Regions from separate parts of the Homo sapiens genome. Here region 1 is linked to region 2. Evidence: fine-mapped expression QTL. A gene starts in region 2. The other region holds a variant in brackets. All regions are shown on one strand. Distances are from middle to middle.

Region 1 (2,784 bases), 44 kb before region 2:
GCTGGTGTCATGAGGGGAACAGGAAGCTGTTTGGTCCTATTTGCAAATTGAATTTTGTGAGTAAGGAAAAGTAGTGTGCATGTGCCTGTCCAATTAGCAGGTAAACACATGTAGGTGGAGGATCCACAGAGGAAGAAGAGACCTTTTGTAAGGCAAAACTGGAAATGTAAAGTGAAAAGATGAGGAGAAAAATTGATCTTGAGGGACAGAAGTTGGAAGGCTAGCTGCTTCTTTAGTTACCTTATTAGCATAAGCGTTGCCTTGAGCAATGGGATCTGATGCCTTTTGATGGCCCTTGCATGAATGACCCTAGCTTCCTTGCAAGTAGAGCAGCTTTAAGAAGAGTTTTTATTAAGGAGGCATTAATGATGAAGGACCCTTGTGTAGTGAGGAAATTTCTTTCTGCCCATATAACAGCATGGTGGTGCAGGATATGGAAGGCATATTTAGAGTCAGTGTAAATATTGACACATAGTCCCTTTGCAAGAGTGAGGGCCTGAGTTAAGGCAATGAGTTCGGCTTGCTGAGAGGTAGTGGAGCGGGGCAGAGCAGTAGCCTCAAGGATAGATGTGGAAGATACTATAGCATAGCCTGCCTTTGCTGGTGAGTGGCGAATGGGCCTGGAAGAACTATCATCAATAAACCAAGTGTGGTCTGGGTGGGGAACAGAAAAGAGGGAAATATGGGGAAATGGGGAGAATGAATCATTTAGTTAGGAAGGCAAAACCAGGTATCCAAAGGTGAAAGTACCTAACCATGTGTAGGAAGGAAAGGAGTTGTTTTGTAGAAGGAGTTGGGGTTTGGAAGATTAGCCAGACATGATCAGCAGGGAGAGAACCTGTGTTTTTATGAAGAATTATGCCAAGATAGGTAATGGATGAGGAAGAAATTTGGGCTTGACTGAAGTAATGGGGGCTGTCCCTGAAACCTTGCAGCAGTACAGCCCAGGTAAGTTGCTGAGGCTGATGGGTGTCAGGGTCAGTCCAAGTGAAAGTGAAGAGAGGCTGGGATGAAGGGTGCAAAGGAACAGTAAAGAAAGCATGTTTGAGATTCAAAACAAAATAATGGGTTATGGAGGGGAGGTATTGAGGATAGGAGAGTATATGGGTTTGGCACCATGGAGTGGATAGGCAAGACAATTTGGTTGATAAGGTGCAGATCCTGAACTAACCTGTAAGACTTGTCCAGTTTTTGGACAGGTAAAATGGGGGAATTGTAAGGAGAGTTTATAGGCTTTAGAAACCCATGCTGTAGCAGGCAAGTGATAACAGGCTTTAACCTTTTTAAAGCCTGCTGTGGGATGGGATATTGGCGTTGAGTGGGGTAAGGGTGATTAGGTTTTAATGGGATGATAAGGGGTGCATGATTGGTCATCAAGGTAGGTGTAGAGGTATCTTATATTTGTGGATTAAGCTAGGGAGACACAAGGGGAGGCTGCGAAGGAGGCTTTGAACTGGGGAAAAGGGGAGCAATGAGGTGTGGCTGTAGCCCAGGAATAGTGAGGGAAGCAGATAATTTAGGTAAAATGTCTCAACCTGATAAGGGAGCTGGGCAGGTGGGGATAATTAAAAAGAAGTGCATAAAAGAATGCTGTCCAAGTTGGCATCAGAGTTGGGGAGTTTTAAGAGGCTTAGAAGCCCGGCCGTCAGTACCCACAACAGTTATGGAGGCAAGAGAAACAGGCCCTTGAAAAGAAGGTAATGTGGAGTGGGTAGCCTCTGTATTAATTAAGAAGGGGACGGACTTA[C/T]CCTCCACTGTAAGAGCTATCCATGATGGTCCAGGAGGATTTTTAGGTAATCAGGCAGCATCAGTCTTCAGCCACTAAGCCTAGAAGATCTGGGAAGGAGTTAGTCAGAGAGCTTTGGGCCAGAGTTCCAGGGGCTCTGGGAGTGGCTGCCAGGTGAGTTGGACAGTCTGATTTCCAGTGGGGTCCCACACAGATGGGACATGGCTTAGGAGGAATCCCAGGCTGTGGGCATTCCTTGGCCCAGTGGCCAGATTTCCAGCACTTGAAGCAAGATCCTGGGGGAGGAGGTCCTGGAGGAATGCCTGGCCGCTGCAGTTCAGGCATTTTGAAGTTCTTCTGTGCTGGAGATGTGGCTGGGGTTTCTCTCACAGCGGAGGCAAGTAATTGCAACTCTTCTCTATTATTGTCCACCTTGAAAGCGAGGTTAATTAAGTCCTGTTATGGGGTTTGAGGGCTGGAATCTAATTTTTAGAGCTTTTTCTAATGTCAAAAGCAGATTGGGTAATACAATGTATATTGAGAATAAGACAGCCTTTTGGCCCTTCTGGGTCTAGGGCGGTAAAGGGTCCGAGGGCTGTTGCCAAATGGGCCATGAACTGGGCTGGGTTTTTATATTTGATGAAAAAGAGCCTAAATGTTAACTGATTTGGGAGAGGTCGGATAAAGAAGAAGGAGCACTAACCTTGACTATGCCTTCAGCTCCAGCTACCTCTTTAAGAGGAAATTGTTGGGCAGGTCGGGGAGGGCTAGTCATGGAATGAAACTGTAAGCCAGACAGGGTGTGAGGAGGGGAGGTGATAAAAGGATTATAGGGTCAGGGAGTGGAGGCTGAGGAAGAATTGGGACCTGGCTCGGCCTGGCAAGGAGCAGTCTGGGGAGGAGGGAAGAGGTCAGATGGGTCCGTAGAAAAGGAAAATTGAAAAGACTCAGCAATGCTTGGGGTTGGGACTGAAGGGACAGGAGGGAGGGAAAGAAGGAAGATTTGGGATGAGTCGCATTGGCAACAGAGACTAGGGAGGAGCCGACGTATAAAAGAA
Region 2 (2,784 bases):
CTGCATCCTCTACCTCTCTCATGAGGCTTTCCCTCACTGCATCCTGTACCCTCACAGCCCTTAACACACCACTCAACAAATACGCATTTGCATCTAACCAAATGTGACCCTGTGTCCATATTTATGTTTCTGTATATTAATGCATTCTTGTTTCCCCTGCCAGGCTCCATTAGTCTGGTTAGCTTTTGCCCAGGTATCAGGAAATGAGGGGATGGGGAGAGGCTCAGAATCCAAACTTGACAGAGTAGCTGTCCACCACTAGGTGATGGTGGGGTCAGGCATCTCCTTAGGCTGGCTGTGCTTCTGTTTTCTTTTCAATGGAGATACCGGCTTTCTTGGAAACACATGTGATGGTGGGCTAGCCGTAGAAGCACTACTATAATAACGATGTGATCTTTGTCATTTCACTTCTTCAGACCTCATTAGTCCTACATATAAAAAGAGGAAGTTAAACTAGCTCAAATGTACTGAGCAGAAGGAATGGAGACTGTGCAGCTGAGGGAGCGGGGCCTGAAAAATAAGTGTGGGTTGTGTCGCCACACACCGGGACTCCTGGGATCCCGACCTCTTTTAGCGGTCAAAAGAGGGCAAACTAGTTGCCTAACAATATTTAGAGCTATTTCTCTCTTTTCACTCTCATTCTACGAGTGTACACCGGAGTTTCTAGCAACTACATGGTATGTGAAGTCATCCCTCTAATGATAACCTGTAATGAGGTTACTACTGTGATTTTTAATGAATACATTTTAAAATGTTTTAATTTCTTCAAAAGCAAACATTAATCTCTACATATGTGTGTATACATATACAGGAAATGTATGTATATATGAATATACATATATTCATTGTATATGTGTATATATATTCATACATAATATGTGTGTGTGTATATATATATATATTTACACATTTCCTACATAAATAAAAGTTCTTTAAGGTCCTAATAATTTTTAAGTGAAAAGGAGTCCTGGGACCAAAAAGTTTTGAGAATCACTGAACCAGATTTCTAGATCTTTAAGATCATTTATTCACTCAACAAATAATTGTGCCTCCTGTGGCCAGGCATTTTGCAGATACGGAGGATAATGTGGTGATAGCAACATGTTTCCTGCTCTGATAGAGTTTTACATTTGGGAGGGAAGAGACAAACGAATAAATTAACAAGATAATTTCTGAGAGCAGTAGGTTTAATGAAGCCGTAAAGCAGGACACATATCCCTGCACAATCTGTGCGCCTGCTCAGACGTAACACCCCGCAGCGCAGCAGGCAGATTCAGCGGCGTCGCCCCATAAGGGCCCGAGCCCTCTCAGTTGGCCTAGGACGGCGAGGGCGGGGCCTGCCCGCCCCCCTGGCGCTGGCGTCAGGTGACGTCACTGTGCCGCGCCAGCCAATCGTGGGCAGCCGGGGTCTAGGCACCACGGTGGCTGGCGGCCTGCGGGCGGCGCTGTGGCCCGTCGGGCGGCTCCACAGAGCCGCCCTAGCCTTCCGCCTTCCCCAAGCCAACGTCTCCGCCGTCGGCTCCGCGGCGCCGCCATGGCCGACGTGGAAGACGGAGAGGAAACCTGCGCCCTGGCCTCTCACTCCGGGAGCTCAGGCTCCAAGTCGGGAGGCGACAAGATGTTCTCCCTCAAGAAGTGGAACGCGGTGGCCATGTGGAGCTGGGACGTGGAGTGCGATACGTGCGCCATCTGCAGGGTCCAGGTGATGGGTAAGCGCTGCACGCGAGTCCAGGGCCGCCCTGCGGCCTCCGGGAGCCGACCTCGGGGTTGGGAAGGGACGGGCGTCCGTCAGAAGCCTCGGAAAGTGCCCTGCCTGGGAGAGTGGGTGGAGGTCGCCCTGCCCCGGCGCCGGAGGAACGCGGAGCCACGCTCCTGCTGCGGCTCCTGAGGGCTGCGGCCGCCGCCTGGGGCTGCGGGGTTGTGCAACAGGCGCCCTGCGCCGGGTGGTTGGTGTTCTAGGGAGAGAGACGGGCAATAAACGGAGTTAAACAAGGTAATTTCAGGTAGTGATGGGTGTGACCAAGAAAGTAAAACCGGGTGATTGTTGGGAACTAGCAGGAAACACTTCGGTTTGTGTGTCCAGCCCCAGCCCCACCTCTAAAAGCTCAACACAAGGTGGTCAGGGTAAAGGCCGTGATTCAGCAGTGAACTTTAATAGTCTTGGTCACCACCAAAGTGATGCTCCAGAGTCATCTTCCACAAAACGACACCCTTAGTTCTCCTCGAGGGACGCAGGAAAGTGTTCATAGCCATTGCATTTCCGGATTAGCTTACCGCCGCTCTTCGAATGGCTTTTAAATCTGGATTGATTTAAGACGGGTCAGATAGCACTAGCGTGGCTTGAAGGGAACAGTGTGGTTCAAGAATATCTAAGTTTCATGGAAGCTGAAGAATTGTAAGCCCTTTTTTCAGAAACGTAAAACTTCACCTCCATCACACCCCCCTCTCCATATTGGATGCCATTTCCTGGAGAAGATACTGTGCTGCTCTGAGTCATGCCTTTGTGGAGAACCCTCTTACAAATATGTCTTCTTTCTGTGATATTTTGAGTTAAAATATTAGACCAAGTGAAACTTTTCAGAACAGCTTAATCTTGTTATATTTTATATGGTTCTAAGAACTCAGACCACTTTGAAAAGCAGGTGCTATTTAAATGCAAGTTGTATTTTCAGATAGGGCATTTAAAATTACTATGAGACCCTCTTCAGTGGAATTCTTTATTGAGGGTAGTTAAAGAAAACGGACATTTCTATCGTTTGAAAACTGTGACTTGTCTTGAAAAAT

Evidence for each region. PIP is the estimated chance that this variant, and not a neighbour inherited with it, causes the effect.
Region 1: its variant is fine-mapped to the expression of RNF7 in whole blood (INTERVAL, PIP above 0.99).

The regions. Positions count from the first base shown.
Region 1 is chr3:141,692,732-141,695,515 of GRCh38, forward strand. It overlaps the pseudogene LRRC78P. Among named protein-coding and RNA genes, the nearest start is that of RNF7, 44 kb to the right of the region's middle. The variant C/T (reference allele first, on the strand shown) is at 1,748.
Region 2 is chr3:141,736,808-141,739,591 of GRCh38, forward strand. RNF7 (ring finger protein 7) reads left to right here and starts at 1,491. Exons shown (of 3, transcript NM_014245.5): 1 at 1,491-1,709. The coding sequence starts at 1,535. RefSeq lists enhancers at 1,034-1,083, 1,124-1,173, 1,284-1,963, 1,524-1,763, 1,964-2,642 and silencers at 1,264-1,523, 1,784-1,963.